2 separate regions of the Homo sapiens genome follow, and region 1 is linked to region 2. The links come from fine-mapping of genetic effects on gene expression. A gene starts in region 2. The other region holds a variant in brackets. All regions are shown on one strand. Distances are from middle to middle. Region 1 overlaps TRPM4 (transient receptor potential cation channel subfamily M member 4). Region 2 holds the start of TRPM4 (transient receptor potential cation channel subfamily M member 4).

Region 1 (16,641 bases), 40 kb after region 2:
CTATATCACACGTCCCATCAGGGACTGAGATACTGAGGAAGCTTCCCAGGTGCCAAGCTCAAGACTTGGCTCAAGATTTGGTTCTGCCATCAAGGAGGCCATCACCAGAAATTGATTTTCTTCATGCTACACATACTTCCATCCCTCTGTAGCAAGCGGAATCAGTTGATTGAGGGATTTTTCACCTATTTTGTTCGTGGTCCCAAGGCCCCTGCTTTTAATCACTATGCTATGGTTGCCGTTAAGGTATTTTAAAAGTCAGGCCTAAGCAAATGAAATAGAATATTTATCAAACTTCTTTTTTTGTTGTTGTTTTTGAGGCGGAGTCTTGCTCTGTCGCCAGGCAGGAGTGCGGTGCCGCGATCTCATCTCACTGCAACCTCCGCCTCCTGAGTTCAAGCGATTCTCCTGCCTCAGCCTCTCAAGTAGCTGGGATTACAGTCACCTGCCACCACGCCCAGCTAATTTTTTTGTATTTTTAGTAGAGACGGGGTTTCACCATGTTGGCCAGGATGCTCCCCATCTCCTGACTTTGTGATCTGTCCTCCTCAGCCTCCCAAAATGCTGGGATTACAGGCATGAGCCACCATGCCTGGCCTATATATAGTTTTTTAAGACAATGTAGAGAGGATACAAAATATTTATCTGTAGCCATAAAAAAGAACGAGATCATTTCCTTTGCAGTGACATGGTTGGAGCTGGAGGCCATTATCCATAACAAACTAACAGGAACAGAAAACCAAATACCCCATGTTCTCACTTATAAGTAAGAACTAAATGATGAGAACACATGGACACACAGAGTGAAACAACACACATTGGGGCCTATTGGAGGACAGAGGGTAGGGCGAGGGAGAGGACCAGGAAAAATAACTAGTGGGTACTAGGCTAAATACCTGGGTGATGGAATAATCTGTACAACAAACCCCCATGACACAAATTTACCTACCTAACAAACCTGCACATGTACCTCTGAACTAAAAATAAACGTCAAAAAATAAAAAAAAGAACAAAATATGTATCAAGAGAGAAGGGAAAAACTAAGATAAACATTTGGACCACTGAGAAAGGTTGATAGAAGGCCCCAGTGTCTGAGGTCAGGATCAGTAATGGTGTCCTTCCCTAGCAATTTCTCATCTGCACATGTGATGATGATGACGACCTTGATAACAGCTGATGTTATGAAACACGTACAATGAGCAACTACTGTGCTCAATTCTTTTGAAAATCAGTTGGTTTTTTTTTTTTTTTTTTGAGATGGAGTCTTACTCTGTCGCCCAGGCTGGAGTGCAGTGGCATGATCTCGGCTCACTGCAAGCTCCTCCTCCCGGGTTCACACCATTCTCCTGCCTCAGCCTCCTGAGTAGCTGGGACTACAGGTGCCCGCCACCACGCCCGGCTAATTTTTTTGTATTTTTAGTAGAGCTGGGGTTTCCCCGTGTTAGCCAGGATGGTCTCGATCTCCTGACCTCGTGATCTGCCCGCCTCGGCCTCCCAAAGTGCTGGGATTACAAGCATGAGCCACCGCACCCGTCCGGAAATCAGTTCGTTTAATTCCAACAACCCAGTGCAATAGGGCCTATAATTATTCTCATTTTGCAGGTGAAATAATGGAGTCATTCAGTCACTTGCCTCAGATCATGTGGTTGGTAAATGGTAGAGCCGAGATTTGATCCCAGATCCTCTTGTACCTGAGTCTGTGCTCTCAGCCCCTGTGGAGCCCCCCCACTGAGAGCTCTGTTGAAGGACAGATCCCAAGATCCCCCCAGAGAGGCTGGGGCTGAGCCCAGGAACCTGCCTGTGGCCTGGCTGGAGGTGATTCAAGATGGCAGATGTGGGGGAAGCTTTCTGACCCACCGCTCTCCCTTCTTACCAGGATTCTGCAGGAGAACTGTGAAATACCATGATGGTTTTCTCTATCAGTAGGGAGCTTGCTGTCCTCTCTGCATCTGACCTTCTTTCTCTAGGAGTTCTTAGTTTCTGTAGCTTTCACTATTCTCCTCCTTCTCCTCCTCCTTCTCCTCCTTGTCCTCCTCCTTGTCATCCTCCTTCTCCTCCTCCTCGTCATCCTCCTTCTCCTCCTCCTCTTCATCCTCCTCCTCCTTCTCCTCCTCTTCCTACTCATCCTCCTCCTCTTCCTCCTTCTCCTCATCCTCTTTCTCTTCCTCCTCCTCATCCTCCTCCTGCTCCTGCTCCTCCGCCTTCTCCTCATCCTACTTCTCCTCTTCATCCTCCTCCTGCTCCTGCTCCTCCGCCTTCTCCTCATCCTACTTCTCCTCTTCATCCTCCTTCTCCTCTTCCTCCTCTTCATCCTCCTCCTCCTGCTCCTGCTTCTCCGCCTTCTCCTCATCCTCCTTCTCCTGCTCCTCCTCCTCCTGCTCCTCTGCCTTCTCTTCATCCTCCTTCTCCTTCTCCTTTCTTCTTCTTTGAGACAGGATCTTGATCTGTCACTCAGGCTGGAGAGCAGTGGCGCGATCATGGCTTACTGCACCCTCAACCTCCCAGGCTAAGCCATCCTCCCACCTCAGCCTCTCAAGTAGCTACAGATGCATGCTATGCTCGGCTAATTTTTATATGTTTTGTAGAGATGGGGTTTCGCCATGTTGCCCAGGCTGGTCTCAAATTCGAAGGCTTAAGTGATCTTCCCACCTCGGCTTCCCAAAGTGCTGGGATTACAGGCATACACCACTGCGCTTGGCCTCACTTATTTCCTTCCTTCCTCCTTCCTTCCTTCTTTCCTTCCTTCCTTTCCTTTCCTTTTCTTTCCTTCCTTCCTTTCTTTCCTTCCCTTTCTTTCTCTCTCTCTTTCTCTCTCTGTCCCTCCCTCCCTTCCTTCCTTCTTTTCTTCCTTCCTTCCTCCCTCTCTTTTCTTTCTTTCTCTATCTCCTTCCCTCCCTCCCTCTCTCCCTCCCCCCAACCCTTCCTTCCTCCCTTCTGAGACAAGGTCTCACTCTGTTGCCTCCGCTGAAGTATAGTAGCTTGATCTTGGCTCACTGCAGCCTCAACCTCCCAGTGTCAAGTGATTCTCCTGCCTCAGCCTCCTGAGTAGCTGGGACTGCAGGTATAAACACACCTGGCTAATTTTTTTTTTTTTTTCTGTAGAGATGGGGTTTCACCATGTTGCCCAGGCTGGTGTTGAACTCCTGGGCTCAAGCAATCTGCTCACCTTGGCCTCCCAAAGTGCTGGGATTTCAGGCTTGAGCTACCACGCCCAGCCTCACTTTTTTTTCTTTTTTTTTAAATGGCAGCTTTATTGAGCTGTAATCCACATATCATACCGTTCACTTACTTAAGGTATACAATTCAGTGCTTCTTGGTGTACTCACAGAATTGTGAAATCATTTCCACAATTCATTTTCAAATATTGTCATCACTCCAACAAGAAACTCTGTACATGCTTAGCACTGCTTTTCGTTTTCCCAGCCCTAGGCCACCATTCATGTACCTGCTGTCTCTGGGTTTGCCTGTTTTGCACACTTCACATAAGTGGAGCCATGCACTCTATGGTCTTTTCTTCTTCTTCTTCTTTATTTTTTTATTTTTTGAGACGGAGTTTTGCTCTCGTTGCCCAGGCTGGAGTCAATGGCGCGACCTCAGTTCACCACAACCTCCGCCTCCCGGGTTCAAGCGATTCTCCTGCATCAGCCTGTCAAGTAGCTGGGATTACAGGCATGCGCCACCACGCCAGGCTAATTTTGTATTTTTAGTAGAGACGGGGTTTCTCCATGTTGGTCAGGCTGGTCTCGAACTCCCGACCTCAGCTGATCTGCCTGCCTCGGCCTCCCCAAATGCTGGGATTACAAGCGTGAGCTAGCGCGCCCAGCCCGTTTCTACTTTAATTTTTTTTTTTTTTTTTTTAGACAGGGTCTCGCTCTATTGCCCAAGCTGGAGTGCAGTGGCATGTTCATGGCTGACTGCAGCCTGGGCCTCCTGTACTCAAGTGATCCTCCCATTTCAGCCTCCCCAGTAGCTGGGACTACAGGTGCTTGCCCCTACTACTGGCTAAATTTTTATTTTTATTTATTTTATTATTATTATTATTATTATTTTTGAGACAGAGTCTCACTCTGTCGCCTAGGCTGCAGTGCATTGCAACCTCTGCCTCCCAGGTTCAAGCGATTCTCCCGCCTCAGCCTCCCGAGTATGTGGGACTACTGGCATGCGCCACCAGACCCGGCTAATTTTTGTATTTTTAGTAGAGACAGGGTTTCACCATGTTGGCCAGGCTGGTCTCGAACTCCCTACCTCAGGTGATCTGCCCGCCTTAACTCCCAAAGTGCTGCGATTACAGGCGTGAGCCACCGCGCCCGATCCGGGTATATTTTTAAAATATTTTTTGTAGAGATGAGGTTTTGCCATGTTGGCCAGGCTGGTCTCCAACTCCTCGGCTCAAGCGATCAATCCACCTCTTGACCGGAGATTTCAGAGGTCAGAGGTTAGATACAAGAGTCAAAACCCAAGAAATTAGCTCTGGGCAGACTGAGTTTCGGGTCAGGCAGGGTGAGATGTGCCAAGCCAAAAGTCTCGATGATGGTGGAGATCAGGACTCAGAGGTCAGAGTGAGGCCTCCTCCCTTCTCTTCTCTTCCCCCACAGGACGGCGGACCCAGCCGAGAAGACGCCGCTGGGGGTCCCGCGCCAGTCGGGCCGTCCGGGTTGCTGCGGGGGCCGCTGCGGGGGGCGCCGGTGCCTACGCCGCTGGTTCCACTTCTGGGGCGCGCCGGTGACCATCTTCATGGGCAACGTGGTCAGCTACCTGCTGTTCCTGCTGCTTTTCTCGCGGGTGCTGCTCGTGGATTTCCAGCCGGCGCCGCCCGGCTCCCTGGAGCTGCTGCTCTATTTCTGGGCTTTCACGCTGCTGTGCGAGGAACTGCGCCAGGGCCTGAGCGGAGGCGGGGGCAGCCTCGCCAGCGGGGGCCCCGGGCCTGGCCATGCCTCACTGAGCCAGCGCCTGCGCCTCTACCTCGCCGACAGCTGGAACCAGTGCGACCTAGTGGCTCTCACCTGCTTCCTCCTGGGCGTGGGCTGCCGGTGAGTGCCCCGGGGCCTTGGAACCCTGGCCCCTGGCCACCTCTCATCCTTCCTGCCCACTCCCGGGGTCTCCACTCCCGGCTTCCCCGCAGCTGGGCAGCAGGTCAAGCCAACCCTGCTGATTGAGAACCCCTCTTAGGAAAGTCGGGCATGACGATTGCCCCAGGGTAATTGGCTGGCACCTGGAGATCTGGCTTCAGGGACGGCAGGATTCAGGAGAAAACCCCACTGTCCGCCACTCAGCCTCTGCTGCTATTTATTGCTAGGCCTGAAGTTTAACAGATATTTATGGGAGCGCCCCGACCTGGGTGCCAACCTCACCTCCTCCCTTCTCTTCCTCCACATAGCTCGTTGGTCCCAGGCCCCTTGCCCTCCTGCCCCCGACTTTTTCTTTCTTTCCTTTTTTTTTCTTTCTTTCTTTCTCTTTCTTTCTTTTTCTTTCTTTCTTTCTTTCTTTCTTTCTTTCTTTCTTTCTTTCTTTCTTTCTTTCTCTCTCTTTCTTTTCTTTCTTTCTCTTTTCTTTTCCTTTCTTTTCTTTTTCTTTTTCTCTTTTCTTTCTCTCTCTCTCCCTCTGTCCTCTGCCCCTCTGCCTCCCTCCCTCCTTCCTTCCTTCCTTCCTTCCTTCCTTCCTTCCTTCCTTCTATGCTTCCTTCCATCCCTCCAAGCTAAGGGTTTAACCCTTGCCCTGCCTGCATTATGGAGTATCCTGCATTAGGATACTCCTCCTTTTGAGGAGAGCAAACAGAAAAGTTTGTGGATACAACCTGGTGACTGGTTTTTTGTTTGTTTGTTTGTTTTTGTTTTCTTTCTTTTCTTTTTTTTTTTTGAGCCAGAGTTCCGCTGTGTCGCCCAGACTGGAGTGCAGTGGTACGATCTTGGCTCACTGCAACCTCCACCTCCTGGGTTCAAGCGATTCTCTTGCCTCAGCCTCGTGAGTAGCTGGGATTACAGGCATGCACCACTACACCTAGCTAAATTTTTTTTGTATTTTTTTTGTAGAGATGGGGCTTTGCCATATTGACCAGGCTGGTCTTGAACTCTTGGCCTCAAGTGATCCACTGGCCTTAGCCTCTGAAAGTGCTGAGATTACAGATGTGGGTCACCGTGCCTGGCCAACAACCTGGTGACTGTTTACAAGGGACCTGACACATCCTGAATGGTTGACAGTGATGACAGTGATGATCCCTACTCAAGCTTTTCCCAGTAGACACGCTGAGAGGCAGGCTTCCTCTAAGCTATGTTAGCAGTGTTACAAAGTGATTCAACATAAATAATTTATTCAAGCAGGGAGCAAGATATGAGAGTTTTGCAGAACACTAATACTTCTGTTTGTAATTTGTTGTATTTTGTATAAAGTGACTTTTGAGATGAAAGGGCTAAGGCCATATGCTACCATGCTCTAGGATTGCCAGTGATATTTTGGACAGTTTATCAAGCCTACCACTTTCCAGGTGAAAAATGGAAAGATCTCAGCTTAAAAGGGAGAAACGGGCCTGGCGTGGTGGCTCATGCCTGTAATCCCAGCACTTTGGGAGGCCGAGGCGGGTGGATCACCTGAGATCAGGAGTTTGAGACCAGCCTGCCCAACATGGTGAAACCCCATCTCTACTAAAAATACAAAAAATTAGCCGGGCATGGTGGCAGGCGCCTGTAATCCCAGCTACTCGGGAGGCTGAGGCAGGATAATTGCCTGAACCTGGGAGGCGGAGGTTGCAGTGAGCCAAGATCATGCCACTGCACTCTAGCCTGGGTGAAAAGAGCAAAACTCTGTCAAAAAAAAAAAAAAAAAAAAAAGGGAGAAATGTCTAATCATCTCCGGAATTGAATGGATGAATCATCCTTTGTTTCGCCAGTTCCCTCTAGATGGACATTTAGGTTCTCTCTTTCTTTCTTTTTTTGTTTTAAATAGAGACAGGGTCTCACTCTGTTGCCCAGGCTG[G/A]TCTCAAACTCCAGGGCTCAAGCAATCCTCCCACCTTGGCCTCTCAAAGTGCTGGGATTACAGGCGTGAGCTACTATGCTCAGCCTTCTGTTTTTTTATTATTCCAAAATAATAAAAGTTTACATCCCAGATGTAAAGTTTATGGGTCAAAGGGTACATTTATTTTTGACATGGATAGATTTCCTTCTAAGTAGCTTCACTCATTTCCACACCTGCCATCAGGGTAAGAGAGTGCCCCCTTGAGGCCATGCTCGACAATGCCTGATACTTTCACTCTAAAATGTAGCTCTCAATTTAACTGAAAAAAAATTTGCCAATTTAATGGGTAAACATGACCTCTCCTTGTTATAATTTATGCACTCTTGACTACCAGATAGGTTGGACATCTTTTCCTAAGCTTAATGGCCATATGTCCTTGTGCCCCCTTGTTTTTTTTTTGGTTTTTGTTTTTGTTTTTGTTTTTGAGACGGAGTCTCGCTCTGTAGCCCAGGCTGGAGTGCAGTGGCGCGATCTCGGCTCACTGCAACCTCCGCCTCCCGGGTTCACGCCATTCTCCTGCCTCAGCCTACTGAGTAGCTGGGACTACAGGTGCCTGCCTCCACGCCCGGCTAATTTTTTGTATTTTGTAGTAGAGACGGGGTTTCACCGTGTTAGCCAAGATGTTCTCGATCTCCTGACCCCGTGATCCGCCCGCCTCGGCCTCCCAAAGTGCTAGGATTACAGGCGTGAGCCACTGCGACCGGCCACCCTCCCGTTTTTTTAATTGGGGTTCATTGATTTGTATATGTATAAATGTATATACTCCTTATACTCTGGATCCTAATCCTCGGTAGTTTTGTTGGTCTTAATATCTTCATATCTTCTCGAAGTCTGTGGCTTGTCTTTTCACTTTCACTTTTGTATGTTTCTTTTCTTTTCTTTTTTTTGAGCCTGCCTCGGCCTCCCAAAGTGCTGGGATTACAGGCGTGAGCCACCGCGTCTGTCCATACACTAGGTTTTTAATCCATCCAAAGTTTAAGTACATGAGGATGCAAAATAGGGGTAGAATTTTTATTTTCCCCATAGGAATTATTGATGTTTACTGGCCGTTTGAACGTCCTCTGTGAATTGTACGTGGTATCCTTTATCTGGCTTCCTTCCTTTTGCGTATTAGTTTGTAAGGACTCTATATGTTTTGCCTTTTATAGGTTGGACAGATATTCCGGCAGTTTTTCCAGCTTGATTCTTACAGGGACCAGCTCTTTGCTAAGGCCATCGTTCATTCAGTCATTACTTAATAGGCGCAGCCATTTTAAAAATGGGTGCCAGGGCCCTGCATGGACCAGCTTGGTACTGAATAAATTTGAGTAAACCCCGGGTGACTGGGAGGGTCCTGGTCCTGCCCGGTGGAGGCTGCAGCTTCCTCTGAAGGATGGCATTGGGAAGACTTCCATTTTCCTTGGCGTCTTGTGACACTTGACCCTTGTGGCATCTCCCCACACCCCAGGCTGACCCCGGGTTTGTACCACCTGGGCCGCACTGTCCTCTGCATCGACTTCATGGTTTTCACGGTGCGGCTGCTTCACATCTTCACGGTCAACAAACAGCTGGGGCCCAAGATCGTCATCGTGAGCAAGATGGTGAGGCAGGGGCGGGGCCAAAGTGGGCGGGGACATAGGGAAAGGGGTGGGGCCAGGGAGGGAGTGGTCCGTGGAGAAGGGGCGTGACTTTGGGGAGCAATGGGGCGTGTTTTTGGGATATAGGGGTGGGGCCAGAGTAGGAAAGGGCGGGGCCAGACTCAGCCACATCTCCCCACAGATGAAGGACGTGTTCTTCTTCCTCTTCTTCCTCGGCGTGTGGCTGGTAGCCTATGGCGTGGCCACGGAGGGGCTCCTGAGGCCACGGGACAGTGACTTCCCAAGTATCCTGCGCCGCGTCTTCTACCGTCCCTACCTGCAGATCTTCGGGCAGATTCCCCAGGAGGACATGGACGGTAGGGGGGATGACGGCCTGACAGCCTTCCTCTGAGTCTCTGTCCCCGCTCCCTGGGTCTCTGTCCTCCTGGCTCTAAGAAAATATCTGTCTCTCTGAGTCTCTGTCTCCCTCTTTCTCTGGATCTCTGAGTGATACCCTATATTCCCCATCATCATCTCTCTGGGTCTCTGCCTACCCCACCCCCTCTGTCTTTCTGTCTGTCTTTCTTTTTTCTTTTTTTTTTTCTTTTTTTTTGAGATGGATGTTAGAAATGTTTATTTTGTGGTGTCGTAAAGAAATAGTACTTGAACATAAATTTAATTTTTTTAGTAAAGCCATTTTTATTTTTTGTAGAAAGGGTACACTCGCCAGCAGTTTTGTCATGAGAGTACACGGAACAAAGGAGATAGGGTCATTTATAACCTGACGCGTCTATTTTACTGCTGTGTCTGGTTTTTATTGGCTGGAACCGGACTTTACATTTTGTATTTGTCTTGATTGGCTAGTAACTTAGAAGTTTTTAAAAGAAGCGAAGGCAGAGGAGAACAAAGGAAGGAGGAAGTAACTTGTGGAATGTTGAGAAAGGTAAAAACACTTTTAAATAAGGAAGAGGAACAGGCTATGATCTAATGCTTGCTTGAACCAGTATAAGTATGTCAGGGCAAATATTTAGGCTAAATTGTGAGAGCTAAGAACATAAAGTACATTGATTTATTTTTTATGGCTAGTAGATATTTAAGAATGTTAGCACAGGTGTTTGAATAAATTTTGTTTCTAAGAGAAGTTACTATTTATTGTTAATTAGATGGGGAGGAAAGTCTTTGAAGAGGAACCTGTACTTTACTTTTTACATGGAGTTTTGCTCTTGTTGCCCAGGCTGGAGTGCAATGGCACGATCTCAGCTCACTGCAACCTCCACCTCCCAGATCGAAGCGATTCTCCTATCTCAGCCTCCCGAGTAGCTGGGACTACAGGCGCGTGCCACCACGCCTGGCTAACAGTTTTGTGTTTTTAGTAGAGATGGGGTTTCATCACATTGGTCAGGCTAGTCTCAAACTCCCCACCTCAGGTGATCCGGCCATCTCAGCCTCCCAAAAGTGCTGGGATTACAGGCGTGAGCCACCGCGCCCGGCAGTCTTCCTGTCTTTCTTAGGTCTCTGTCCCCCTCACCCCATCTCTGAATGTCTCTCTTCACAGTGGCCCTCATGGAGCACAGCAACTGCTCGTCGGAGCCCGGCTTCTGGGCACACCCTCCTGGGGCCCAGGCGGGCACCTGCGTCTCCCAGTATGCCAACTGGCTGGTGGTGCTGCTCCTCGTCATCTTCCTGCTCGTGGCCAACATCCTGCTGGTCAACTTGCTCATTGCCATGTTCAGGTGAGGCCTGACTGCTCTCTGATCTGACCCCACCCAGCATGACCCGTGGCCCTCTCATGACTCTTGAACCCCGTCTAATGAATTCTGTTTTTAGTCCCTGAACTCTGATCCAATCTAATGCTGCCTTCTCCCCAAACCCAACCAGACCCTGCTTGTAATTTGGACTTTGGACTGATCCTCTCCCTGAGCCCAGGTTGAACTTCCTTATTTGTATTTTTTTGAGACAGGGTCTCACTCTGTCGCCAAGGCTAGAGTGTGGTGATGTGATCGTAGCTTACTGCAGCCTCGACCTCCTGGACTCAAGCAATCCTCCTGCCTTCGCCCCATAAGTAGCTGGGACTACTTAAAATTAGCCAGGCCAGCAGGCCTGCCTAATTTAAAAAAATTTTTGGAGAGAGGGGTCTCACTATGTTGTCCATGCTAGTCTCGAGCTCCTGGACTCAAGTGATCCTCCCTCCTCAGCCTCCCAAAGTGCTGGGATAATCTGTCACCTAGGCTGGAGTGTAGTGGCAAGTTCTCAGCTCACTGCAACCTCCACTTCCCACTCCCCCATACCCAGTTAATTTTTTGTATTTGTAGTAGAGATAGGGTTTCACCATGTTGGCCTTGAACTCTTGACCTCAAGTGATTGGCCCACCTCAGCCTCCCAAAGTGTTGGGATTACAGGTGTGAGCCATCGCGCCCAGCCAACTTTGTTTTTTATTGTGGTAAAATTATATAAAATTTTCCATTTTTACTTCTTTTTTTTTTTTTTTTTTTTTGACGGAGTCTCGCTGTGTCACCCAGGCTAGAGTGCAGTGGCACGATCTCACAATCTCAGCTCACTACAAGCTCCGCCACCCGGGTTCACGCCATTCTCCTACCTCAGCCTCCTGAGTAGCTGGGACTACAGGTGCCCGCCACCACGCCCAGCTAATTTTTTTGTATTTTTAGTAGAGACGGAGTTTCACCGTGTTAACCCGGATGGTCTCAATCTCCTGACCTCGTGATCCACCCGCCTTGGCCTCCCAAAGTGCTAGGATTACAGGCGTGAGCCACCGCGCCCCGCCTTTTTTTGAGATGGAGTCTCGCTCTGTCGCCCAGGCTGGAGTGCAATGGTGCAATCTCAGCTTACTGCAACCTCCACCTCCCAGGTTCAAGCGATTCTCCTGCCTCAGCCTCCCAAGTAGCTAGGACTACAGGCGTGCGCCACCACACCTGGCTAATTTTTTGTATTTTTAGTAGAGATGGGGTTTCACCGTGTTAGCCAGGATGGTTTCGATCTCCTGACCTTGTGATCCGCCCGCCTTGGCCTCCCAGAGTGCTGGGATTACTGACATGAGCCACCGCGGCCGGAGTTGATTTTTACCATTTTTAAGTGTACAAGTCAGTGACATTAATTACATTTACAGTACTCTCCAACCATCACCACTATCTATTTTCAATACGTTCTATCACCCAGAACAGAAAGTGTGTCCCCATGAAACAGCAACTCCCCACTTCCCCTCCCCACAGGTCTTAGTAACCTCCAGTGTATTTTCTGTCTCTATGGATTTAGTCTAGATGTTTCATGTAAGTGGAATTATGCGATATTTGTCTTTTGGTGTCTGGCTGATTTTACTGAGCATGTTTTCAAGGCTCATCCCTGTTGTAGTGTGCATCAGAACTTCATTCATTCCGTTTTATGAATGAGTAATATTCTATTGTACAAATAGACCACATTTGGGCCCAGCGTGGTGGCTCATGCCTGTAATCCCAGCACTTTGGGAGGCCTAGGCGGGTGGATCACCTGAGGTCAGGAGTTCGAGACCAGCCTGGCCAACGTGGCAGGACCCCCTTTTTACTAAAAATACAAAAATTAGCTGGGCTCATGTCTGTAATTCCAGCTACTTGGGAGGCTCAGGCACGAGAGTCGCTTGAACCCAGGAGGCGGAGGCTACAGTGAGCCAAGATCGTGCCACTGCACTCCAGCCTGGGCAACAGAGCGAGACTCCATCTCAAAAAAAGAAGACCACATTTGATTTACCCGCTCATCTGTTGATGAACACTTGGGTTCTTTCTGCCTTTTGGCTATTGTGACTAATGTTTGTTGGAACATTGGCATGCAAGTATCTATTTGAATCCTTGTTTTTATTTCCTTTGGGTGTGTATCTCAAAGTGGAATTCCTCGGTCATGTGGTAATTCTATGTATAGCTTTTTGAGAAACCACCAAACTGGTTTCCACAGCAGCTGCACCATTTTCCATTCTCACCAGCAGTGTATGAGGGTTTTAATTTCTCCACATCCTAGCCAACACTTGTTATTTTCCTTTTGTAAAAATTATAGTCATCCAGCTGGGTGTAGTGGCTCATGCCTGTAATCCCAGCACTTTGGGGGGCTGAGGTGGGAGGATTGCTTGAGCACAAGAGTTCGAGACCAGCCTGGGCAACATAGCGAGGCTGCTGTCTCTACCAAAACACCAGAAATGAGATACCACTTCACACCTGCAGCCTCAACCTCCTGGGCTCAAGTGATCCTCCCACCTCAGCCTCCCAAGTAGCTGGGACTACAGTTACGTGCCACCATACCTGGCTTGTTTTTTTAATTTTTTTTTTACTTTTATTTTATTTATTTATTTTTAGTAGAAACGGGGTTTCACCATGTTATCCAGGATGGTCTCGATCTCCTGACCTTGTGATCCACCCATCTCGGCTGGATCCCAAAGTGCTGGGATTACAGGCGTGAGCCACCGTGCCCAGCGGCTATTTTTTTTTTTTTTAATGAAACTCCTTTTTAATCCTATGTTAGGTCTCTCTGTTTGCTTCCTTTCTTGTTGGCATGATTTTTGCTGAGAAAATATAAAATTTCATTGGCTTTGGTTGTTTTTTTTTTTTTTTTTTTTTCAGAGATGGGGTCTTACTATATTGCCCAGGCTGATCTTGAACCCCTGGGCTCAAGCAGTCCTCTTGCCTTGGCCTTCCAAAGTGCTGGGATTATAGGCACAAGCCCCTGTGCTGGACCTATTGTATTAGTTTCCTAGGGCCGCCAGAGTACCAAAAACTGTGTGGCTTTAAATCACAGAAATTGTCTCACAATTCTGGATGCTAGAGGTCCAAAATCAAGGCATCCGTCAAGCTGTTTTCTTCTGAGGGATGTCGGGGAGAGTCTGTTCCATGCCCCTCCTGTCACGTCTAGTGCTTTGCTGGCCATCTTTGGCTTCTAGTTGCGTCATTGAAACTTCTGCTTTCATCTTCCAGATTTCCCCTTTTAATAAAACGTTACTTAAATTGGATTAGGGACCATGCTAATAACTTCATTTTAACTTGATCACATGTGTAAACTCTATTTCCGAATAAAGCCACATATTTCATAAATAAAAAATTTAAAAAGGTCTCATTCTGAGGCACTATGGGTTATGACTTCAACTTTTTTTTTTTTTTTTTTTTTTTTTTGGAGACAGAGTCTTGCTCTGTCACCCAGGTTGGAGTGCAATGGCGTGATCTCGGCTCACTGCAACCTCCACCTCCTGGGTTCAAGGGATTCTCCTGCCTCAGCCTCCCGAGTAGCTGGGATTACAGGTGCCTGCCACTATACACAGCTAATTTTTGTATTTTTAGTAGGGACGGGGTTTCACCATGTTGCCCAGGCCGATCTCAAACTCCTGACCTCAGGTGATGCACCTGCCTCGGCCTCCCAAAGTGCTGGGATTACAGCCGTGAGCCACTGGACCCGGCCGGACTTCAACATATCTTTAGCGGGATACAATTCAATGCATGACACTCATAGATTTATGAGTTTATTTCTGGACTTTCAATTCTATTCCACTGGATTGCGTCTATCCTTATGCCAGAACCACACAGTTTTTTGGGTTTTTTTTGAGACGGAGTCTCGCTCTTGTCACCCAGGCGGGATTGCAGTGGCACGATCTCTGCTCACTGCAACATCCGCATCCTGGATTCAAACGATTCTCCTAACTCAGCCTCCTGAGTAGCTGGGATTACAGGCACCTGCCACCACGCCCGGCTAATTTTTTTGTATTTTTGGTAGAGACAGGGTTTCACCATGTTGGCCAGGCTAGTCTTGAACTCCTGACCTCAGGTGATCTGCCTCGGCTTTCCAAGGTGCTGGGATTACAGGCGTGAGCCACCATGTCTAGCCCACACAGTGTTGATTACTGTAGGTTTGTAGCAAATTTTGACATTGGAAGTATGAGTCTCCTTTGTTATTTTTCAAGATTGTTTTGGCTATTCTGGGCCTCCTGCAATTCTATATGAACTTAAAGATCAGAGTTTCCATGTCTGTCAAAAAGGTTGTTGGAATTTTCTTTTTTTTTCCTTTTTTTTTTTTCTTTTTTTTGAGACAGAGTTTCACTCTTGTTGCCCAGGCTGGAGTGCAATGGCGCGATCTCAGCTCACCACAACCTCTGCCTCCCGGGCTCAAGCGATTCTCCTGCCTCAGCCTCCTGAGTAGCTGGGCTTATAGGCATGTGCCACCACGCCCGGCTAATTTTGTATTTTTAGTAGAGACAGGGTTTCTCCATGTTGGTCAGGCTGGTCTCGAACTCCCGACCTCAGGTGATCCACCCGCCTTGGCCTCCCAAAGTTCTGGGATTACAGGTGTGAGCCACCGCGCCCGGCCAGTTGTTGGAATTTTCCGAGGGATTGCGTTGAATCTGTAGATTGCTTCGGGTAGTATTGATATTTCATCTAGGTGTTCTTTTTAATGCTTTTCCAGCAGTATTTGGTAGTTTTCAGGCTACAAATTGTTCACCCTTTTGGTTAACTTTATTCCTAGGTGCTTAACCTTTAGATACTGTTGTAAGTGGAATTGCTTTCTTAATTTCCTTTTTGGATTGTTCATTGCGGGTGTGTAGAAACACAACTGATTTTTGTGTGATCTTGTACCCTGCAACTTTGCTGAATCTGCAGCCCTAGAAGCTTTCTTGTGATTCTCTGGCATTTCCTATATATAGGATCATGTCATCTGTGAATAGAGATATTTTTACTTCTTCCTTTCCAATTTGGATGCCTTTTATTTTTTTTCTTGTTTAATTGTTCTAGCCAGAACTTCCAGCACAATGTGGAATAGCAGTGGTAAAAGTGGACATCCTTGTCTTGTCCCTGATCTTAGGCAGAAAGCTTTCACTCTTTCACCATTGGGTATGACGGTAGCTGTGGGTTTTTCAGAAGTACCTTTTCTCATGTTGAGAAAGTTTATTTCTATTCCTAGTTTACGATTTTTAAAAATTATGATGCATGGTGGCTTGTGCCTGCAATCACAATACTTTAGGGAGCCAAAGTGGGAGGATCACTTGAGGCCAGGAGTTCAAGACCGACCTGGGCAACATAGTGAGACCTTATCTCAATAAAAAAATAAAAAATTTGCCAGGCGTGGTGGTGCATGCCTGTAGTCCCAGCTACTCAAGAGGCTGAGGTGGGAGGAAGGCTTGAGCCCAGGAGGTCAAGGCTGTGGCTTCAGTGAGCCATGATTTCACCACCATCATGATTGTGCCACCAACAGAGTGAAACCTTGTCTCAAAAAAAAAAAAAAAAAAAAAAAGCCATGCATGGTGGCTCAAGCCTGCAATCCCAGCACTTTGGGAGGCCGAGGTGGGCAGATCATGAGGTCAGGAGATCGAGACCATCCTGGCTAACACGGTTGTAGGGGCCAGCCCTACAAGGTCTGTGGGTTTTTCTCCCCGTGTGCAGAGACAAGAGATTGTAGAAATGAAGACACAAGACAAAGAGATCAAAGAAAAGACAGCTGGGCCTGGGGGACCACTACCACCAAGACGTGGAGACCGACAGTGGCCCCTAATGCCTGGCTGCGCTGTTATTTATTGGATACAAAGCAAAAGGGGCAGGGTAAAGAGTGTGAGTCATCTCCAATGATTGATAAGGTCACGTGAGTCACATGTCCACTGGACAGGGGCCCTTCCCTGTTAGGTAGCCAAGGCGGAGAGAGAGAGGACAGCTTACATCATTATTTCTTCTATGCTCTTTTAAGAAAGATCAAAGACTTTAATACTTTAATACTTTCACTAATTTTGCTACTGCTATCTAGAGGGCAGAGCCAGCTGTACAGAGTGGAACATGAAAGTGAAACAGGAGTGTGACCGCTGAAGCACAGCATCACAGGGAGACGGTTAGGCCCCTGGATAACTGCGGGCGGGCCTGACATCAGTCAGGCCCTCCACAAGAGGTGGTGGAGCAGTCTTCTCTAAACTCCCCCGGGGAAAGGGAGACTCCCTTTCCCGGTCTGCTAAGTAGTGGGTGCTTTTCCTTGGCACTGACGCTACCTCTAGACCACGGTCCGCTTGGTAACGGGAATCTTCCCAGATGCTGGCGTTACCGCTAGACCAAGGAGCCCTCTGGTGGCCCTGTCC
Region 2 (12,211 bases):
CAGGGACATGATGGTGGTGTTCACCTGAGACAGCCTCAACCTCTTCCTTTCTGTGGTCTTGGTGCCTGTGGGCCTGGTGTCCATACTCAGTGGAGACATCATCATCATCATTGTCATCTTCTTCATGGCTTCGGTGCCTGTGGCTGGGGTCGCGATGATGGTGTCCATCTGAGACATCTTCATCCTCTTCAATCCCGTGGCCTTGGTGCCTGTGAGCCTGGTGTCTATATTCAATGGAGACATCATCATCATCATCATCATCATCATCATCATCATCATCATCGTCATCTTCTTCATGGCCTTGGTGCCTGTGGCTGGGGCCATGATGATGGTGTCCATCTGAGACATCCTCATCCTCTTCACTCCCATGGCCTCGGTGCCTGTGGGCCTGGTGTCCATACTCAGTGGAGGCCTCCTCTTCCTCCTCCTCCTCCTCCTCCTCCTCTTCTCCTTCATCATCTTCCCCATCATGGCCTCGGTGTCCATGCCTGAGGATATGATGGTGATGCTCACTGGACACAACTTCATCCTCATCCTCGTCTTGATGGCTGTGGCTCCTGTGGCTGGGGAGGTGGTGCCTGTGCTCAGCTGAGTCTTCCGTGTCTTCACTCCCGTGGCCTCTGTGCCCACGGGCCTGCCCACCATGCTCTGCAAAGACCTCCTCACCTGAGACACCCTCATCTCCGACTTTGTGGTCTTGGGACCTGTGGCCTGGGAGTAGGTGCCCATATTCCTTGGAGACATCTTCATCCTCCTTTTCACGGTCTGGGTGGCTCCAGAAATGATGCCCATTCTCTGTGGAAACATCCTTGTTCTCATCTGGATGGTCTCTAGGGCTGTGGAGGTGGTGGCGAAGCTCTGCTGATGCCTCCTCGGAGAGCCCGGCGACTCCAGTGCTGTTGTTCCGGTTTCTGAAGCCTAGCCCATCCCCTCTGAGCTGCTGGGTCATGGCCGGGGGGAGGAGCAGGCTGGCCACCCCAGCCCAGAGGACAGAAGCGTGCAGCCATGGCCTATGGTGGCCCATGGGGACGGACAGGCAGCACTGGCTCCAGCTGCCTCTGCGGCAATGTGGACAAACGTTGGGGTCTTTGTCCCTTTGGGGTTGGTCTCTTTTTTTCTCTGTGTCTCTCCTTTGTCCTTTCGGTCTCTGTCCACCTTCCTCTGGTCCTTGCTGCCTGGCTCTGGACACCCCTCTGAGGCTGTCTCCGGAGCCCCCTGACCCCCCTCTGGGGCCCTCCCTCCCCATTCCCCAGCCAATAGGGTCCTTCCCCTCCCCTCTCTCCAGCTAAATTTACTCTCAGCCCTGAGTTATTCTGGGTCAGTCCCCGCCTGCCTGCCTCCTGCTCCTCCTCCTCCCAGCTGGGGAGGGGACCAGTGAGGGGTCTCTCCCTGGCCAGGAGACGGTGGCCAAGGGACTTGACTTTGAACTACCAACAAGCTCACGTTTGGCAGCTGCAAAGACAAAGGCTAGACTTTTAGCAGGTTTTTGGGGGAGCCTGGGGCACCTGGGGGAGGCAGAAGAGACTTATCAGAGGGGAGAGACTCCTGGGACGGAAGGACTGGGGGTTCGATTGCGGGGTGTTTCCAGCTGGAATGATACGTGCTGGTGAGAGAGTGATGTCAGTATTGAGGCCCTAGAATGGGGGGAAAGGAACATGGCCCCCAACACACGTGCCCATGACCTCCTGTCCCTGGAACTCAGATCTGGGGGCAGGGACTGGGCTAGGCCAGGGCTATAAATACAGCTGGGAGGGGTAGGGGGACTCAGGTTACGGAGGCCACAGCTGTCCCCATCACAGAGGGCTGGCAGGAGACAAGTGGCCTTGCCCGTCTCTGTGTGTCAGTATTTCCTACTCCTCACCCTTCATGACTGCCCCCACTAGGGTCTCCTTTCCTGTTCACGGGTCCTCCTCTCTCTTCAATTCTGTCATCTGCTCTCTCAGGGTCCCTGTCCCTCCTCCATGGGATTGCCTCTCCCTCTCACTCTGGGCTTCTGTCCCACTCTTATCTTAGTGTCAGTCCTCCCCCAAGTCTGTGTCCCTCTCTCTCCCCTAAATCTCTGGCCCCTCCTTTCTGAGTTCCTGCCCTTCCCCCAATTCTTTGGTTTTTGCATCCCCCTCTGCCCCTTGCCTCAGTCAAGGTGTCTCCTCCCCATCTCTGGCATCCACCTCTCTGGGTCTCTGTCCCCACTCTCTCTCAGAGTCTCTGTCCCCCTCTGTCTCAGAGTCTCTGTCCACCTCTCCCTGGGTCTCTGTCCCCCTCTCTCTGGGTCTCTGTCCCCCTCTCCCTGGGTCTCTGTCCCCCTCTCTCTGTGGATCTCTGTCCCCCTCTCTCTGGGTCTCTGTTCCCCTCTCTCTGTGGGTCTCTGTCCCCCTCTCTCTGTGGATCTCTGTCCCCCTCTCTCTGGGTCTCTGTTCCCCTCTCTCTGTGGGTCTCTGTCCCCCTCTCTCTCTGGGTCTCTGTTCCCCTCTCTCTGGGTCTCTGTCCCCCTCTCTCAGGGTCTCTGTCCCCCTCTGTCTCAGAGTCTCTGTCCCCCTCTCTCTGGGTCTCTGTCCCCTCTCCCTGGGTCTCTGTACCCCTCTCCGTGGGTCTCTGTCCCCTCTCCCTGGGTCTCTGTCCCCCCATCCCTGGGTCTCTGTCCCCCCCTCTCTGGGTCTCTGTCCCCCTCTCTCTGGGTCTCTGTCCTCCTCTCTCTCTGGGTCTCTGTTCCCCTCTCTCTGGGTCTCTGTCCCCCTCTCTCTGGGTCTCTGTCCCCGTCTCTCTGGGTCTCTGTCCCCCTCTCTCTGGGTCTCTGTCCTCCTCTCTCTCTGGGTCTCTGTTCCCCTCTCTCTGGGTCTCTGTCCCCCTCTCTCTGGGTCTCTGTCCCCGTCTCTCTGGGTCTCTGTCCCCCTCTCTCTGGGTCTCTGTCCCCCTCTCTCTGGGTCTCTGTCCCCTCTCCCTGGGTCTCTGTCCCCCTCTCCGTGGGTCTCTGTCCCCTCTCCCTGGGTCTCTGTCCCCCCCTCCCTGGGTCTCTGTCCCCCCCTCTCTGGGTCTCTGTCCCCCCCTCTCTGGGTCTCTGTCCTCCTCTCCCTGGGTCTCTGTCCCCCTCTCTCTGTGGGTCTCTGTCCCACTCTCTCTGGGTCTCTGTCCCACTCTCTCTGGGTCTCTGTCCCCTCTCCCTGGGTCTCTGTCCCCCTCTCTCTGTGGGTCTCTGTCCCCCTCTCTCTCTGTCTATCCCTGGGTCCCTGCTGCCCCACCTTCTGATTCTCTGTCCCCTAAGTCTTTGTCTCCCCCTCTTTGGGTTAAATTGTCCCCTCCCTGTCTGGCATCCTCCTTTCTGAGTCTGTTCCCTCTCCGCCACTGGCCCCCAACTCCTTCTGTTCCCATCTCGCGCTTGCCCTTGGAGTCTCCCCTGTGTGTCTCTCTCCCCCCGGCCCGGACCTCTGCACCCCCCAGGTCGCTGTCCCTCTGTCCCCTTATCGCGGCCTGGGACCCGCCCTCTCCCCGCCTCCCGCTTTGGCGTCTCCAAGACTCCCCGCCCCCCAGACCTCGCCCCGCCCCAGGCTAGGCTGGAAAGTGGAGGATCCGGTTTGCTCTGGGCGGGTCTGGAAGCAGAGCCGGCGGAGGGAGCGCCGGGGCCCTGGGCTGCAGGAGGTTGCGGCGGCCGCGGCAGCATGGTGGTGCCGGAGAAGGAGCAGGTGAGCGCCGGACCAGGGTCTGCGGGAGCGCGGAGCTGGGGACCTCGCCTCCAGGCTCCCAGAGAGGAGGGCGCTGGACACCCAGATTCCTGGGTCAGACGGAGGAGGGGGATGGGAGGGTCCAGGTTCCAGGGTCCAGGGCATGGGGGTCGAGACTCCTGAGTCTGGAGCGGGAGGGCGCTGGGGGCCCGGACTCCTGTGTCCGTGGGGAGCGCACGGGGTGGGTGGCTCTGTGTCCCATAGGACAGAACTGGGTGCCCTCTCACCCCACTTCCACCCCTACATTTGTTCCTGTCCCCAGAGCTGGATCCCCAAGATCTTCAAGAAGAAGACCTGCACGACGTTCATAGTTGACTCCACAGATCCGGGGTGAGGAGTTCGCCCCTGGACTGACCCCAGAGGGTCCGCGGCCCGCTGACCCCGCCCGCGGATGGTCACGCCCCAGCCCTGCTCCTTCCCCATTCCTGGACTCGGGGACCTTCCCAAGGGCGTTCCTTGCCGACGCTCTCCCTCTAGGAGCGTTTGGGTCTGTGTAGACACCCCTCATTCCCCATTCGCCATTCTCCCGCTCAGGGTCAGTGTAGACGCTCCAGGGCTCGGTTCTGCTTCTTTCCTCCCCGATGTCTCTTCTATGTGCTTCTGTCTCTTCGTGTCACTTTCTGTGTCTCTGTCTTTCCCTTTTGGGTATTTCTGTTTCATTCATTCATTCATTCATTCATTCATTCATTCATCCATCCATGCAAGAAACCCTCACTCAGCGCTCCCAAGGTCCCTTTAGCCTAATTCAACGGCCCTGCCAGGGTTCCAATTTCCCCTGGGACACGTGCTGTGTGGCTTCGGGCAAATCATTTCACCTCTCTGGGTCCCGTTTCTCATCTGGGCATCAAAAGAGGCTTGATCTCCTGGGGTTATTATGAGAATTAAACAAGTTAATGCTTGTGATATTCCTGGCACAGCGCCCAGCACAGGACGCTGGGAAATATCTGCAGCTCCCACTGGGAGGTGGCAATTATTACCGCGGGCGGGCCCTGTCTTGGTGGCCGGGGACACCAATTGAGCTAGATAGGGTGTGTGCGTCCGCGAGGAGCTCCCGCCCTTCAGTGACGGCCTCTCAAGCGGATCCAGGCTTTCTAGTTTTTTTTTTTTTTTTTTTTTTTTTGAGACGGTGTCTCGCTCTGTCCCCCAGGCTGGAGTGCAGTGGCGCGATCTCGGCTCACTGCAAGCTCCGCCTCCCGGGTTCACGCCGTTTTCCTGCCTCAGCCTCCCGAGTAGCTGGGACTACAGGCGCCCGCCACCACGCCCGGCTAATTTTTTGTATTTTAGTAGAGACGGGGTTTCACCGTGTTGGCCAGGATGATCTCGATCTCCTGACCTTGTGATCCGCCCGCCTCAGCCCCTCAAAGTACTGGGATTACAGGCGTGAGCCATCGCGCTGGGCCAATTTTTTGTATTTTTTTTTTAGTAGAGACGGGGTTGCACCGTGTTAGCCAGATGGTCTCGATCTCCTGACCTCATGATCCGCCGGCCTCGGCCTCCCAAAGCGCTAGGATTACAGGTGTGAGCCACCGCACCTGGCCCAGGCTTTCTAGTTTTTTGTTTTTTGTTTTTTTGAGACAGAGTCTGGCTCTGTCGCCCAGGCTGGAGTGCAGTGTTGCGATATCAGCTCACTGCAACATCCACCTCCTGGGTTCAAGCAGTTCTCATGCCTCAGCCTCCCTAGTAGCTGGGATTACAGGTGCCTACCACCATGCCCAGCTAATTTTTTGTATTTTAGTAGAGACGGGATTTCACCCTGTTGCCCAGGTTGGTCTTGAACTCTTGATCTCAGGCAATGCACCTGCCTTGGCTTTCCAAAGTACTGGGATTACAGGTGTGAGCCACCGCGCCCAGCCCTCTAGTTGTTTTTCAAGACAGTTTTTGGGGTGCGGGAAGTATCCACATTCCTACTTCAGTGTGTATTTTGTTATGACTATATATTAGTGCAGTATGGCTTGTAAATGATGGATAAATAAACAGATATGCGCTTGTTGGACGTGAGTGCTCAAAACCTTTTTACTGATAGGTCAGTGTGGTCAAGACAATTTAGGAAACTCTGGTCTGGCCTGAGGAGGAAGAAACGCAGAAGATAATTATAGTAAGGCAAGGGGTTGCAGCTCCCAAAGACGAGCCACTGGGCTCTGTGAGAGCTGGGAGGAGGTGTTTGCTTAAGACTGGGAGGGGACACAAAATGTCACTAATGGTTTCTGGAGGGAGGAAGAGTGGCTAGTGAGGTGACATTTGAAAGTGAGCTGGAGAGAGGCCCATGGAAAGCGATTTGGGGCCGGGCATTGTGGCTCACGCCTGTCATCCCAACAATCTGGGAGGCCGAGGCGGGTGGATCACCTAAGTCAGGAGTTCGAGACCAGCTTGGCTAACATGGTGCAACCCTATCTCTACTAAAAATACAAAAATTAACTGGGCGTATTGGCGCATGCCTGTAATCCCAGCTACTCAGGAGGCAGGAGAATCACTTAAACCTGGGAGACGGAGGCTACTATGAGCAGAGATCACGTCACTGCACTCCAGCCTGGGTGACAGAGCAAGACTCCATCTCAAAAAAAAAAAAAAAAAGAAAGAAAGAAAGAAAAAAGTGATTTGAACAGCATGTGCAAAGTCCTTGCTAAGGACCATATGGTTTGGCTTGAATATGAATCAAAGTTCAGGGTGCAGGGAGCACTGTCATGAGAGAAGAGGCTGCAGAGGAGGGCAGGGCCAGAGCTTGCAGGGTGTCAGAGGCCACCCTAAGGGGCTGGGATCTTGTCCTTGGGAGCTGGGGCATCACCGCAGCAGTGGGGTTGGCTCTGGGTGTGGAAAAACTTTCTGGGGCTGGGAGAGGATGAACAGGAGCTCGGGAGGAGGCTGTAGAGAGCGTCTGAGCGGGAGGGGTAGTGGCCTGAGCCAGGTCAGGGCTTTCGGGACACAGAGAGGAGGGCATGGGGCAAAGACTCAGGGGGCAGGAAGGCAGAGCTTGGGGCTTGATGAGGGTGATGAGGGAGAGAGGGGGTGCCGCCATCGGTGGATGGCTCCGGGACGTATGCTCTGCTGACTGGGACACAGTGGGGCTGTCCCTGAGATGGAGAGCTCAGGAGGGCAAGCAGGTTTGGGAAATGTCGCTGAGTGCAATGTGGGAATCTGTGCATATGAGCGGCCTAGGGGGACCGAGGGGCATGTGGGGACTGAGATTGGGAAAGGTCTGGACTAATGTCCAGAATCTGAGAGGTCCGAGTTGTAGCTGGTAATTGAAACTGGAAGTAGGTAAGACGTCACAGGGAAAACAACGTGTAAAGTCAGGGGAGTTGCAAACTGGCAATTCTATAGCCAATTGTGTGCGTGTGTTTGTGTGTGTGTGTGTTTAGAAGAGCATTTAAAAATATCTGTCTTCTGTCTCTCTCTCTTTTTTTTTTTTTTTTTTTTTTGAGACAGGGTCTTGCTCTGTTGTCCAGGCTGGAGTGGCACGATCATGGTTCACTGCAGCCTTGACCTGCTGGGCTCAAGCGATCCTCCCACATGAGCCTCCGGAGTAGCTGGGACCACAGGCATGCACCACCATGCCTGGCTAATTTTAAAATTTTTTGTAGAAACCGGGTCTCCCTTTGATACCAGACCAGGCTGGTATCCAACTCCTGGACTCAAGTGAGCCTCCCACCTCACTCTGCCTGCCAAAGTGCTGGAATTACAGGCGAGAGCCACCATACCCGGCTACCTCTTTTTTTTTTTTGAGACGGAGTCTCGCTCTATCACCCAGGCTGGAGTGCAGTAGTGCGATCTCGGCTCACTTCAACCTCTGCCTCCTGGGTTCAAGCGATTCTCCTGCCTCAGCCCCCCGAGTAGCTGGGATTACAGGCACCCACCATCACGCCTGGCTAATTTTTGTACTTTTAGTAGAGACAAGGTTTCACCATGTTGGCCAGGCTGATCTCGAACTCCTGACCTCAAGTGATCTGCCCACCTGGGCCTCCCAACGTGCTGGGATTACAGGTGTGAGCCACTGCTCCTGGCCCTGGCTACTTCTTTCTGTTGAGTTACTTGACTGGCCTCTGCACACATTGGGTTTGAGAATCATGTAGGGAAGGCTTGCACTGGGAACACCTACACTCAAGGGAGGTGAAAAGCAAGAGAAAGCCACAAACAAGTCAGGCATGAAGCAGCCGGGGCGGGGAGGAAGGCCAGAGGGGCAGGGGTATCCTGCCAAGGAGAGGGTTTCCAGAATGAGAGCCTTTCAGCTGTAGCCAGGGCCACTTGTGATACAGTCAGATGAAACCTGAATAAGGGCCGTTGTATATGGAGCCAGGCAGGAAATTGATGATTTTTATCAAGAACAATTTCAGGCCAGGCACAGTGACTCACAGCTGTAATCCCAGCAGTTTGAGAGGCCGAGGTGGGCTGATCACTTGAGGTCAGGAGTTTGAGACCAGCCTGGCCAATGTGGTAAAACCCCATCTCTACTAAAAATACAAAAACTAGCCAGGTACTGTGGCACATGCCTGTAATCCCAGCTACTCAGGATGCTGAGGCACGAGAGTCGCTTGAGCCCAGGTGGCAGAGGTTGCAGTGAGCTGAGATCGTACCACTGCATTCTAGCCTGGGAGACAGAGCGAGACTCCATCTCAAAACAAAACAAAACAAACAAACAAACAAAAAAACAATTTATTTCAGTTTCTGTGGCTCCACCGAGGAAAGAGTGTAGGAGGCAAGCTGTGCAGAAGGAATGGCTCCTAGCACTGAATGTCAGAATTTTCCACGATTTTGGAAACGTTCTATGTCTACATCCAATATGGCAGTCCTGGCCACAGGGGGCTACTGGGCACTTGGAATATGGCCATTGTACCTGAGAAACTGAATTTTTTTTTGAGGTGGAGTCTCGCTCTGTCGCCCAGGCTGGAGTGCAGTGGTGCAATCTTGGCTCACTGCAACCTCCGCCTCCCGGGTTCATGCCATTCTCCTGCCTCAGCCTCCCGAGTAGCTGGGACTACAGGCACCCGCCACCATGCCAAGCTGATTTTTGTATTTTTAGTAGAAACAGGGTTTCACCATGTTGGCCAGGCTGGTCTCAAAGTCCTGACCTCAGGTGATCCGCCCACCTTGGCCTCCCTAAGTTCTGGGATTACAGGCATGAACCACTGCACTTGACCTGAATTTTTTATTTGATTTAATTTTAACTTATTAGAACAGAAAGAGCTCCATGGCTACAAAGAACCCATGCAGCTATCACATTGGACAGTACAAGCTCCAGACTATTCCGTGAAGAGCTTTTATTTTATTATTATTATTTTTTTTTTTTTTTGAGGCAGAGTCTCATTCTGTTGCCCAGGCTGGAGTGCAGTGGCACAATCTCTGCTCATCACAACCTCCGTCTCCCAGGTTCAAGTGATTCTCCTGCCTCAGCCTCCTGAGTAGCTGGGACTACAGGCGCGTACCACCATGCCCGGCTAATTTTTGTATTTTTAGTAGAGATAAGGTTTCACTATGTTGGCCAGGCTGGTCTCGAACTCCTGACCTCATGATCCGCCCGCCTTGGCCTCCCAAAGTGCTGGGATTACAGTCATGAGCCACCATGCCCGGCCTTATTTCTTATTTTTAGTGACATGGTCTTGCTCTGTTGCCTAGCCTGAACTGCAGTGGTGTGATCATGGCTTATTGCAGCCTTGAACTCCTGAGCTCAAGTGATCCTCCTGCTACAGCCTCCTGAGTAGCTGGAACCACAGGCGTGCACCACCACACCTGGCTAATTAAAACAATTTTTTTTGTAGGGATGGGGTCTCGCTCTATTGCCCAGGCTGTTCTCAAACTCCTGGGCTCAAGCAGTCCTTCTGCCTTGACCTCCCAAAGTGCTTGGATTGTGCCCAGCCGTCCTTGAAGTTTTGCTCAGAAGAGCAAACTTTCTGGGAAGTAGCTGCAGGTGTTGGAAGTAGCTGCAGGGGAACTAGGGGATTCAAGGATGGAGCTGAAATGGGTGAACGGACAAAGTCGGTAAACTGAGGCATGCCAGGGCCCTGGAGGTAGACTCAGGAATGAAGAAGACACTTTATTGTAGTTCTCACTGTGCCAGGACCTGGCCTAAGTGTGTTTGGTTCATCCCATGTGTGGATCAGTTAGCCGTTCTTTTAGTGTCTTTACGGCTTTTGCCAAATCCTTGTAGCACCTCTGCTATCCCTTCTGTAAAATTGCTCTTAAATCTGCTCACTAGGTTTGTGTAAATACAGGTCTCCCCTGATATCTGAACTCCTGGAATCTGGAACAAAGAATTTAGATACATTTTTCTCCTTCTTTCTTCCTTTCTCTTTCTTTTCTTTTCTTTTCTCTCTCTCTTTCTTTCTTTCTCTCTTTCTCTTTCTTTCTCTCTCTTTCCCTCCCTCCCTCCCTCCCTTCCTTCCTTCCTTCCTTTCCTTCCTCCCTCTCTGTCTCTCTCCCTCCCTCCTTCCTTTCTTTCCTTAGTTTTTTTTTTTTTTTTTTTTTTTTTTTTTTTTTTGAGATGGAGTTTCGCTCTTGTCTCCCAGGCTGGAGTACAATAGTGTGATGGCTCACTGCAACTTCTGCCTCCTGGGTTCAACCAATTCTCCTGCCTCAGCCTTCTGAGTAGCTGGGATTACAGGCACCCGCCACCACGACCAGCTAATTTTTGTATTTTTTTTAGTACAGACAGTGTTTCACCATGTTGGCCAGTCTGGTCTCAAACTCTTGACCTCAGATGATCCACCCGCCTCAGCCTCCCAAAGTGCTGGGATTACAGGCATGAGCCACTGCGCCCGGCCTCTTGCTTGCTTGCTTGCTTGCTTGCTTGCTTGCTTGCTTGCTTTTCTTTCCTTCTTTTCTTTTTTTTGAACAGGGTCTCACTCTGTTGCCCAGGTTGGAGTGCAGTGGCGTGGTCACAGCTCTCTGCATCACTGCAGCCTTGATCTCCCAGGCTGAAGTGATCCTCCTGCCTCAGCCTCCTAAGCACATGCTGCCACACCTGGCTAATTTTATTTTATTTTATTTTATTTATTTATTTATTTTTAGAGACAGGGTCTGACTATATTGCACAGCTGGTCTCGAACTCCTGGGTTCAGGTGATCCTCTGGCCCCAGCCTCCCAAAGTGCTAGGATTACAGGCATGAGCCATCATACCCGACCCTACATTTTCAAATGAATTTCTCATTCTCCAAACCCCTGTTACTTACTCAGGTGCCAATCACCTTTAGAAAGCAAGAGAGACTTGTGCATTTCTTTAGGTGGGGGAAAGTTTTATATGTGGAAACTTTCCAAATGGAAACCTGTTCCATTTGGCACAGAGAGGAAGAAACAAGCCACACAGAAGCCAAAGACAATGAAAAGCAAACAAAGGTGTTTCCCTACTCGCTAGATGGCTGTTGCCAGCTCCATTTTTTGAGCCCGAGGCCTGCTTTTCTTGTTCAAAAGAGTAGCAAAGGGTTAGGCATTCAAAAATATTCTAGCACCCGGCTGAGCCTCTCTCCTTGACAGTCGTCAGGAGAACTGAAAAAGGAATGACTTTCTCACTGCGTTATTCAAGGTTATTTTAAGCTCCGTGTGAAGTTCGTGTCGCGTTGCCTCTGGCTGGGACTGGTATGCGAGCCTCATTTCAGGAAACACGGCGTTCTTTCCCTGGCTCCTCATAGCTCCGTGGAGTAGGCCGCGCTATTATTGTCTTTTCATTAGAGGAGGAAATTTAGGCTCAGAGAGGTGAAGCCGCTCGCCCAAAGTCACACAGCCGCGTCAGCCCCGAGCATGCGGGCTCTCCCTGAGTTACCCGCTGGATGTTCTTTCTCGTGTTGAACGTCATGTGTTTGGATGGGGGCACAGGGCACAGCAAGGATACCCCCAGTGGCCCTCTGCCTTCCCACTTGAGGCTCCTCAGGTGACAGTGACCTGCTTCTTCCTGCTCAGGCTTTCTGGACTCACTGGCTTCCTTCCCGTGGGGAAAGGGGACCGTCCTCGGCTCCAGTCTCTCCCCGAGGCCGTCAGAGCCAGGGCCAGGGGCAGCGTGGACTCTGCCTGCCTCTGTGGGTGTGGACTCAGTGTCGACAGCCCCCTCTACAGGAGCATGAACACGCTGACAGGGTGCTGGGGTCGGGGGGCAGCCCTGGGTTCACGCTCCGCCCTCGCACCCCCAGAGGGACCTTGTGCCAGTGTGGGCGCCCCCGGACCGCCCACCCCGCAGTGGCCATGGAGGATGCCTTCGGGGCAGCCGTGGTGACCGTGTGGGACAGCGATGCACACACCACGGAGAAGCCCACCGATGCCTACGGAGAGCTGGACTTCACGGGGGCCGGCCGCAAGCACAGCAATGTGAGGCGGGCCTCTGTGGGCGGGGCCCGGGCACCAGGGGGCTGCATGCTCGGGGCTCCAGAGTGGAGCCGGGACGCCCGCCCTGAACCCTGGCCCCTCCGCCCATCCCTGTCTTGGCTCTCTTTGTCCCCTCCGCCCCACCTATCTTCTCTCTGAGGGGGTCCCGTTCTCTCTGCGTCTCTTTGTCTCTGTCTCCCTCTGTCTCCGTG

Evidence for each region.
Region 1: its variant is fine-mapped to the expression of TRPM4 in whole blood (TOPMed, PIP 0.95).

Annotation. Positions count from the first base shown.
Region 1 is chr19:49,191,845-49,208,485 of GRCh38, forward strand. It overlaps TRPM4 (transient receptor potential cation channel subfamily M member 4), which reads left to right. Exons shown (of 25, transcript NM_017636.4): 17 at 4,596-5,030; 18 at 8,456-8,588; 19 at 8,767-8,941; 20 at 10,120-10,297. Among named protein-coding and RNA genes, the nearest start is that of TRPM4, 42 kb to the left of the region's middle. RefSeq lists a silencer at 4,915-5,241. The variant G/A (reference allele first, on the strand shown) is at 6,970.
Region 2 is chr19:49,154,214-49,166,424 of GRCh38, forward strand. It overlaps TRPM4 (transient receptor potential cation channel subfamily M member 4), which reads left to right and starts at 3,579. Exons shown (of 25, transcript NM_017636.4): 1 at 3,579-3,677; 2 at 3,979-4,046; 3 at 11,828-12,002. The coding sequence starts at 3,654. HRC (histidine rich calcium binding protein) reads right to left here and starts at 1,183. Exons shown (of 6, transcript NM_002152.3): 1 at 1-1,183. The coding sequence starts at 1,024. RefSeq lists enhancers at 3,313-3,934, 11,114-11,757, 11,758-12,211 and a silencer at 4,618-4,804.